Linked DNA regions of Homo sapiens: region 2 is linked to region 1. The links come from fine-mapping of genetic effects on gene expression. Tissue or cell type: lung. Region 1 holds a variant in brackets; the other region holds the start of a gene. All regions are shown on one strand. Distances are between the middles of the regions. Region 1 has its middle 20 kb from the start of ROS1. Region 2 holds the start of ROS1 (ROS proto-oncogene 1, receptor tyrosine kinase).

What was found. PIP is the estimated chance that this variant, and not a neighbour inherited with it, causes the effect.
Region 2: it holds the start of ROS1, and the variant in region 1 is fine-mapped to the expression of ROS1 in lung (TOPMed, PIP above 0.99).

Annotation. Positions count from the first base shown.
Region 1 is chr6:117,443,671-117,449,060 of GRCh38, reverse strand. No RefSeq gene overlaps it. Among named protein-coding and RNA genes, the nearest start is that of ROS1, 20 kb to the right of the region's middle. The variant C/G (reference allele first, on the strand shown) is at 2,889.
Region 2 is chr6:117,422,736-117,428,125 of GRCh38, reverse strand. ROS1 (ROS proto-oncogene 1, receptor tyrosine kinase) reads left to right here and starts at 2,184. Exons shown (of 44, transcript NM_001378902.1): 1 at 2,184-2,592. The coding sequence starts at 2,470.

The sequences.
Region 1 (5,390 bases):
AATGGAATGAAGTACTGACACACGCTACAACCTGGATAAACCCTGAAGACATTGTGCTAAGTAAAGAAGCCAGACACAAAAGACCACATATTGTATGATTCATTTATATGAAATGTCCAGAGTTGGCAGTAAAGACAAAGTAGATTAGTGGTTACCAGGGACTGTCGGGAGGGGGAATGAGGAGCGGCTGTTAATGGGTCGGGGTTTCTTTTTTTTTGGGTGATGAAAATGCTCTGGAATTCGATAGCAGTGCTGGTTGCACAACTGTAAATATACTAAAAGCCTCTGAATAGCACGCTTTAAATAGGTGAACTGTATGGTATATGAATTATATCACAATAAAGCTGTTTAAAAATAAAGTAAATAGATCCTTGGTGTCATGTTTTCATTGCAGCAGACTGTCAGCAAAAGGGATGATGAGTAGAAAGGCAGTATATGAAAAACTAGTTTATTCCTCAACATTTCCATGATTAATTACTTTCAGGTCTATAGACTATAGAATCAATTAACTTGGAAATGATTTAAGAGAGTAAGGAAGCCATGAATTTCAGATGCAATGTTTGGCTATATAGAGATTTGGAGATGTAGTGTCAGACACATCTGGGTTTTACCTCTGGCTCAATCAATCAAGCGTCAGTTTCCTCGTCTGTAAAACAGATTTCATAATTGTGCTCACTGAATTGAGCATTAAGGATTAAAGGAGTGGGGATCTTGAGCGATCTGGTTGGCCTTCCAAGGCAGGATTACTGTGACTGTTGTGCGTGCACACTCTCCTTTTCCTATTATTGCTGTTGTTTCCTGTTTTTGCCAGGTACAGACCAAGTGCTGAGTCTGGGTGAAGGAGAGAAAGCTTCTCCTCTCAGGCGATGCTGGCTCTTTGTCCCTTGGAGAGTGGCTCTGGTCTGGCTATGTTGATAAATTCCACAGAGCTGCTATTCATCAGAAATTCAAATCAGCAGATTGTTACTGGGAGAGCTTTCTACCCTAATCTCCCTGGAAAGGCAGGGTTTCAGGCGTCCTGGATCGCAAGCAGCTCCTGAGGTGGGATGAGGGACAGGATGTGATGTTTTCAAGAACCTTCTTTCTGAAGGACTTGCTCCTTTCTTCTTAGACCACTTGTTCTTCCTTCATCTTTGTTTTCTTCCAGTTAGCCGTTAGGCATCATTTTATTTCATGATGCACAGCACCTCTCTTGTCCTATATTTAAAGCAGGCATTCTCTAGTGCTCCAAAGCATGGGCATTTAGCAAAGGCTTTAAGTTTGAGCAGCAAGCCATTTCAGTTGCTTTCTTTTAGATCATTCCTATTTTTCTCTGTATCATCAAATCATCTCTTCTTATTTAAATTTTTTATTTTTATTTTTTTGATACATGGTCTCCCTCTGTCACCCAGACTGGAGTCCAGTGGTGCGATCATGGCTCACTGCAGTCTCAACCTCTTGGACTCAAACGTTCCTCCCACCTAAGCTTCCCAAGTAGCTAGGACTACAAGCATGCACCCACCATGACAGACTAGTTTTTTAAATATTCTGTTCAGATGAGGTTTTGCCATGTTGGCCAGGCTGGCTTTGAACTACTGGGCTCAAGTGATCCTGCTGCCTTAGCCTTCCAAAGTGCTGAGATTACAGGCGTGAGCCACCATGCCTGGAAAATCATCTCTTCTTTACCTTCCTTGGGCTTCATAAGCCAGGATGCCAGTGCCTCTAAGGTGCTGGTTATCACAGTACTGGCACATAGGATGTGCCTGTTGAATGCTTGCTTGAGGTGGGCAAACTGTTTAATTTATAATAATCAGCCTTTGGGGTGAAGACAGAATTCTGTGCAGTATTTTTCAAGTCCCACATCACTGCCTTTTTCTGTTCTTCTGGATGTTTTCCTCCCTCAGTATTCCCCTCATCCAGAGTCTCTGAGGGGGTGACTTTGTGGGAGGAATAAAATGGAATGTTTTTAAAGTGACTTAGCATGGCTTAACTATGATACCTCAAAATTGGCATCACCGTACCACTCATTTTTTGTTGCACTTGAACCAAAAGAGTTATACGAAGTTACAAATGTTAGGGGAGTTTGGGCCAAGCATTTCTGGAGAGGAGTTTCTGTGTGGGAGAACAGTCATAGTCTTAAATGGCTGAATCAATTTCAGGAGGAGAGAAGCAAGAAGGGCTTCTGGCCACTACTGTCTAGCCTAACGCTCAGGGAGGGAAGGGGGTGGCAGTGCAAAATTTGGAAATATTCCTTGTTCCTCCTTCCACAGGTCAGAAGGAAGTCATGCAGAACTCACCTGCAAGGGATCCAGAGAGCTCGACAGGCGGCTGAATTTAATTTCACAGAAGAATGAAGAAAACTCAGGAGAATAGAAAATTAACCTAAGATCAAAGGAGGTGAGGGAAATTGCCAAACTTGTATTTCTAGTAGGGACCATTTTTGGAATTTGTTGTTGTGTTTAACTTTGAGAAATATCTATGAAACCCAATGAAATACATTTAAAAAGTTAGCAGAACTTAAGGAGTTTCTTTTAAAAGTAAAAATTTACATTAGTAGCTGATTATACACACACACACACACACACACACACCACCTAAAACCACAATGTATGGTTTATTAATGTATTTATTTGATAAATATGTATTGAATGGTTATTGAATTGGATCATATAAAATTAACTTTTTTTTTTTTTTTTGAGACAGGGTCTCTCACTCTGCCACCCAGGCTGGAGTACAGTGGGATGATCACAGCTCACTGTAGCCTTGATTTCCTGGGCTCAAGTAATCCTCCTGTTTCAGCCTCCCAAGTAGCTATGACCACAGGCATGCACCACCATGCCTTGCTAATGTTTTCTGTTTTTTCTAGAGACAGGGTCTTGCTATGTTGCCCAAGCTGGTCTCGAATTCCT[C/G]AGCTTAAGTTATCCACCTGCCTCTGCCTCCAAAAGTGCTGGGATTACAGGCATGAGCCATTGCACACAGCCTAAAACTGACTTTTTTTAAGGTCAAGATGTTGGTCTATCGGCCATTTCACATGGTTGAACCTATCAGCCAAAATTGTTGTTCAAGGAATCAGCAGTGAAACCTTCTCTAATCTCAGGGGATTTACAATCTAGGGTGAAATAAATCCTTTAAATAAATAATCAAAAAGTTATATAAGACAATAAAATAATTATAAGTGTGGCAACTGTAGGCAAAAAGAGCATGCAAGGAGCCCTGAGACCATACAATGAAGAAACAACTTAGTCTTTGGGGTTGGAAAAGGTGCCCCTGGGGAAATGATGTGAGGGATGGGTGGGATGAATCTGCTGGGGAGGGGGGTGGGCTTTCCAGGCAGTGGAGATTTATGGGAAAGGCTCACGGGGGGAGGGAAGGACCAGAAGGAGTCTGGCTGGTTGGAGGGTGATGTAAGAGAAGAAGGTCAGAGAGGGAGAGGGTGACCAGGTGGGCTGAGGAAGTCCTTGTACACCACATCAACTTTAGGGATTTCAGAGATTGTTCTAAGGAAAATGGAAAGGCAGCAAAATTTTTTTTTTTTTTTTGAGGCAGAGTCTCTCTCTGTCGCCCAGGCTGGAGTGCAGTGGTGCCGTCTCGGCTCACTGCAAGCTCTGCCTCCCGGGTTCAGGCCGTTCTCCTGCCTCAACTCAGCCTCCCGAGTAGCTGGGACTACAGGCGCCCGCCACCACGCCCGGCTAATTTTTTGTATTTTTAGTAGAGACGGGGTTTCACCATGTTAGCCAGGATGGTCTCGATCTCCTGACCTCGTGATCTGCCTGCCTCAGCCTCCCAAAGTGCTGGGATTACATGCGTTAGCCACGAAAATGTTTTAAGAAGGGGAAGAACTGATCTTTACACAGTGTGTTGGTATAGAATTAGATCTGGTAGACTGCCATGTTGAAATTTCCAAGTGTTGCAGTAAGATCTGAAGAGAATGAAGTGTCCAGAGTTTGAGTTGGTGTCCAGCAACTCAAGTCTTGGAAGAGGAAAACAATGTGTACCTGTCCTTCTAGATAAGAGTATTCACTCCTGATGAGGCCAGTGCTTGTCCTGGGGACCACAGGCCAGCTATCTTAACACAGCTCTCACAACTGGGTCTCTTGAGACCCATTTCCAGGCTCTCTTGTTCCCCTGGGAATCCCTGACTATTCAGTTCCCAGAGGAAGAGACAGAAGTAGAGGTTTAAGAGGCAGGTGGGGTTAGGATGAGAACATAGTTTTCTTGTAACTCGAAGTAAGTGGCTTGGGGTATACCAGCTATTGAGAAATCCTCTTGAAATCAATTGAGCAAGTTTTGGAGTGAATATTACAGTAAGAATTCAGGGCAGATATAAAAGCAACTAGAAAAGCAGAAAAATGCCTACACTAGCTGTGTCATCTGCACTACATATGCTATGGGAACATATAGCTGTCTTGGCTGTGGACAGTAAACTGTAGTTGAGCAAGACCGTTTAATATCTGGGACAAACTTTACTGGTAAATAAAGGCCATGTGCTCCTGAGGTTTAATTGGGACACATCCTGCATTTGTTAGTGAAATAAGCTCCCAGAAAAATAGATAGACTTTTTTGGGGATATTTTTGACATTAAAACTTTACTCATTTGATAGTTATATTCATCATCCATGAACATTTTTGGAACATCCAGAACATCCAAGGTGTTAGGCTTCATCTTTTGTTGTTAACATTTTATATTCTTCTTGCTTCTGTTATGGTATATCAATTGAGAAGTTCTTGACTAAGAATTAAAATAACAAACTGAAAATATCTTAACACAAACCTGAGCTCACTTAAAGAAGTCTGGAAGTTGGTGGATCCAGTGTTAATTTTTAATTGATTTTTATATTAAAAAATGTTATAGAGTAAAATCCTAAGTTTGCATGAATTTAAAACCAAAACTGGAGATACGAAGAAAATTTGAGCTCCTGCAAAGCTCAAAGCTCAAAACTCAAAGCCCGCATCCAGAGATGGGCATCACCTCCACTTAACTCTTAATGGTCTTCTACTGTCAGGGTTCTCCCAGGGAGAAGATTCAAAGACACAGTGCTCAATAATCCTGTCAACACAGTGGTCTTCATGATTAGAAAGGACAACTGAAGTCTAGTTTTTCACACATATTAAAGGGATTTAGTTAGGGTTAACTTTTCAGAATTCTAGTGATCAGGGAAGAATAGCCTGATTAAACTGATTGACCTAATGATATGTTTTTAGGTAAATAAGAAAGCCCCAATTCGAGCTCATAGGGACAATTTTAGTTCCCCAAAAACCAAAGCTTAGCATACTAACCAAGACCTACTCAGTCTTAGATCTCTGTTTTAGTAACTCCTTTGAAATATAGGCAGTAGATCTCATGTATTCTGGGAATAACCTAATACAATGTAAATTAAATAAAATTAAAAACATTTTATTTAACCCAATGT
Region 2 (5,390 bases), 21 kb after region 1:
TTGGGGAAATCTCCAGGACATTGGTTGGGGTAAAAATTTCTTGAGCAATACCCAACAAGCACAGGCAACCAAAGCAAAAATGGACAAACGAGATCACATCAAGTTAAAAATCTTCTTTACAGCAAAGGATACAATTAACAAAGTTAAGAGAAAACCCACAGAATGGGAGAAAATATTTGCAAACTACCCATCAGACAAGGGATTAATAACCAGAATAAATAAAAAGCTCAAACAACTCTATAGAAAAAAAATCAAATAATCCAATCAAAGGATGGGCAAAAGATTTGAATAGACATTTCTCAAAAGACATACGAATGACAAACAGGCATATGAAAAGGTGTTTAACATCATTAATCATCAGAAAAATGCAAATCAAAACTACAATGGGATATCATCTTACCCAGTTAAAATGGCTTATGTCCAAAAGACAGGCTATAACAAATGCTGGTGGCAATGTGGAGAAAAGGAAACCCTTGTATATTTTTGATGAGAATGTAAATCAATACAACCACTATGGAGAACAGTTTGGAAGTTCCTCAAAAAACTAAAAATTGAGCTACCATATGATCTAGAATTCTACTGCTGGGTATATGCCTAAAAGAAAGAAAATCAGTATATCAAAGAAATATCTGCATGTGAATGTTTATTGCAGCACTGTTTACAATAGCTAAGATTTGGAAGCAACCTAAGTATGCATCAACAGATGAATGGGTAAAGAAAATGTGGTACATATACACAATGGAGAACTATTCAGCCATATTCAGTCACGTCCAACAACATGGATGGAACTGGAGATTATTACGTTAAGTGAATTGAGCTAGGCACAGAAAGGCAAGCATTGCATGTTTTCACTTATTTATGGGATCTAGAAATCAAAACAATTGAATTCATGGACAAAGAGAGTATAAGGATGGTTGCCAGAGGCTGGGAAGGGTGGTGGTGGGTGGGGTGGGGGATGGGAGATGGGGACAGTTAATGGGTACAAAAAATGTAGAAAGAATAAATAAGACCTACTATTTGATAGCACAACAGGGTGACTACAGTCAATAATAACTGTACATATTAAAATGACTTAGAACATACTTGGATTGTTTGCAACTCAGTGGATAAATGCTTGAGGGGATGGACACCCCATTCTTCATGATGTGCTCATTTCACATGGCATGTCTGTTTCAAAACATCTCCTGTACCCCATAAATACATACACCTACTATGTACCCACAAAAATTAAAAAACAAACAAACAAAAATCCAATCAAAAGACGTTCAGCTCAAAACAAAACCTCATGCATGTGTTACTCATAGGGAGAACCTTATATCATTAAGAAAAGGTTAAGTTACATTTAGTATAATTTATTTAAGAAAACAAGGAGGTTGGCCTGTTGTACCGCGGTGGCTCACGCCTGTAATCCTAGCACTTTTGGAGGCCGAGGTGGGCGGATCACGAGGTCAAGAGATCGAGACCACTCTGGGCAACATGGTGAAACCCCATCTCTACTAAAAATACAAAAATTAGCTGGGCATGGTGGCGGGCGTCTGTAGTCTCAGCTACTCGGGAGGCTGAGGCAGGAGAATCGCTTGAACCTGGGAGGCGGAGGTTGCAGTGAGCTGGGATCATGCCACTGCACTGTAGCCTGGGCGACAGACAGAAATTCAGTCTCAAAGAAAGAGAGAGAGAGAGAGAGAGGAAGGAAGGCAGGCAGGAAGGAAGCTTGTACAATGTTTCCTTCTCAAAGCAGACACTTGAACATATCTTAGGTTTCTGGTAACTAGTTTCAGCTGTCTCGATAGACCTGATAAGTCAGTATTTTAGTTAATATGTAGTAAAGTTCTGAGAGTACTCTAACCAACTTCCTTGTTTTTAACTCTCTCCCAGGGTATTTGTCTATTAATTTCAGCTTTGTTTGCTCTTAAATTTAAAAATATGTATTTGGCTTCTGAGTTCTGTTTTCTCTCTCAGTTGCATTGCTTGATTTGGGTGCCTCTATTTTTCCAATAATTCTTTATTATAATAGTGCTACTGTTTGCTAAAGCATACGTGGTCAAAACCCAATTCCCTGCAGAGCTGAAAAGAGCTCAGAGAAGTAAGGTGGTGGACGACCCACTGAAATGTTCCAGTTTCAGACTGCATGTGTCACACCCTTGCTGAAATACAATTCGTTTTCTTTAATTTCCATGTGAAGTGCACTTCTAAGAACTAACCTTTAGTCACTGGGTGACTTTATGGGAGTAAAAGGAAGCTGTTATGAAATAGCTCTTATGGAACTGTTACAAGCTTTCAAGCATTCAAAGGTCTAAATGAAAAAGGCTAAGTATTATTTCAAAAGGCAAGTATATCCTAATATAGCAAAACAAACAAAGCAAAATCCATCAGCTACTCCTCCAATTGAAGTGATGAAGCCCAAATAATTCATATAGCAAAATGGAGAAAATTAGACCGGCCATCTAAAAATCTGCCATTGGTGAAGTGATGAAGAACATTTACTGTCTTATTCCGAAGCTTGTCAATTTTGCAACTCTTGGCTGCCTATGGATTTCTGTGGTGCAGTGTACAGTTTTAAATAGCTGCCTAAAGTCGTGTGTAACTAATCTGGTAAGTCTCACAATCTAATATTTGTCTTTGCAGGAACTAGAACATGTAGCATTCAGCTTGTTATAACTGATAGAATTGTTTTCTCTTTATGAGGAGTTTTCTTATGAGAAGTGGTGGCAACAAGGCAAGATAGATTATTTTTTCTTAAATAAGTTAGGAGCCCTTATAATTGCAGAAGATAAAGCAGGCTATTTTATTTCTTTAGGGTATGTGGTCATATATTTTTTGGGCTAGAGGACTGGGTAAAGGAGGTTTAAATGGAATCAATTTTGCCAATTTTGCACACTTAAAAACTTTCTATTTAAACTTATTTATTACAAAGTCATTAGTAGTTGTCTTGAAACCTGAAATCGGTTTGGCCACAGGATAATGCCTGCTAATTCCAGCTGTGTAGGGAGCTGGATGAAAAAGGAAGCAGATACAGTTGCCATGTAAAATAATATTTTAAAGCAATAATTATTTGTACATTTCTTTATTTCTGTTTGTGCATTTATTATTTTAGTTAGTGAGTTTTTTATATGGAAATTCATGCTTTCATTCTCATTTCTGGGTGTCATCCCTTCTCTAACTATTGTACCATCTCTTTTCAGTTGTAATTTAGTTGTGCTTAAAACAGTCACTGAATTAACTTTAAAAACCAAGTACTCTATAGACAGAGAAAATGCACTCTTCCTGTCTAAAGACAAATAAAATATCATGATAGTTTGCATATGACCCTATCTATAGCCATACTTTTAAACATAATGCAAGTACTAAATATAGTATTCATTATATTATTCTAAAGTATTGGAGATAGAATTATGTGGCAGATTAAAAAGAAACTTGCACTTATACACTTTTGATTTAAACTGTAGTTTAAAACACTACTTAGGTTTACCATGGTTAGTAGCATTTTTTTAAAAGTTTAGTATTTTATATAAATCTTTGCCGAAGACTTCATTGCCTTTAATATAGAATTGCATGCTTTAGTTTTTTATATTTGTAACCCAAACTTAAAAATGGAAGAATGGAACTACTAAATGTTTCAACTACTGAATGGAAAACTAAATGTTCTAAAAAAGATTTTAACTTTTTTCTAATTATAATAAGAGTATACATTTTAAATAAAATATTTATAACATAGAGAACTACAGAAGAATAAAAAACTTCTAATTCTAGCCCTAGTAATCTTTTGATTGAATTTTCTTTTAGTATTTTTCCTCATATATATATATGTATACATATATATCTATAATTTACACCCAGCTATGCAACCAGCTTTTTCATTACATTGTATTGTGAGTTTTCCCCTAGACCCTGAGATTTTTTTAGAAACAGAATCTTTATTATCTTTAGAGTATTCCATTATATGAATGTACCACCATAATTTATTTGTTAATTTCCCTGCTACTGAAACTGATTTTAGTTGTTTCCAATATTGCAGTCTCCATTTTATTTTACTGTCGTTTTATTTATTCTTATCTTTTTGTGTGGGCTCCTTGCTTCCAGGGTTTGGCAGTAGGAATAGACAGTTTGTTCCTTTGTTGAGTTGCCTTCCGTTCACCACCTACAGAGAATGGCACAGCTGATGTGTGGCAACAGCAAGAGAGACACGGTCTGCCAATTTGACCAGTGAAAGTACTACATGTTCCCACATAGGGCCTGGAGGGACAAAAGTGAAGTGAATGTACAATTGAATGTAACCATGGTTCACAGGAGAGGATATACAAAGTGCTCAAGTTTATTATATTTTCTGCATCATTTTTAAAAACATGGACATTTACTCTGAAGGTCATCTATAATTTTATTGGGTGATTCTTGATATTGAGAAATGTTTTCTTAAAAAAAAAAAGTCACCACAAGAATGTCTTGTCCAAAAATAAAATGTTAGAATTGTGGGCCAAATTGCACGAAGCAGAGTTCTATGCTTGAGCATTGGTATTTTACATTACTTTTATCTTACGTTAACAGAGATCTGCATGTACTAGTTGAAAGTATTAACTGAAAAGTTTTTTTGAATTCTAGAAGCCATGTGCTGCAGAAAACAACAAACAATTAATGCTCTTCAGAACTCTAGTATTGTGAGATCCTTTATGATAAAGAAAAAAGAATTCACGGTTGAATCATTTGTGGAAGTGTATTTTGCTATGCCCTCTTTTTGTAGATTCACAGGGCACAATAACATGTTAAAAGCTTTGTTTAATCATAATTTTCCCATCTTTAGCAACAAAACCCTTTTTTAATGTTTCCATAAGTTATTGGGGGAACAGGTGCTATTTGGTTACATGAGTAAATTCTTTAGTGGTGATCTGTGAGATTTTGGTGCACCCATCAGCCATGTATACACTACACCATATTTGTAGTCTTTTATCCCTCACCCTGCTCCCACTCTTTCCCCTAAGTCCCCAAAGCCCATTGTATCATTTTTATGCCTTTGCATTCTCATAGTTTTGCTCCCACTTATCAGTGAGAACATACGATGTTTGGTTTTCCATTCCTGAATTACATCACAAACCCCCTTTTTTTTTTGAATTAACAAATCACAACAACTGAGGAACTAATATTGAGAAGGGCTCAGGAGTATCAATTCCATTCAATAAATTTCATTCAATATCAATTTATTGAATGGATTCCATTCAATAAATTTTCCTAGGTATCTATGTATATTCAGCTCTGTGGTGGATGCAATTCGGAATACAAAAGAAGTGAATTATGTAATCAATGCCCTAAAGTAAGTTATCAAATACTGAGATATCAAGGTTTCTATCACTAGACAGTTAAAGGCTGTTACAAACATGATGTGCTTTTATAATATTAGA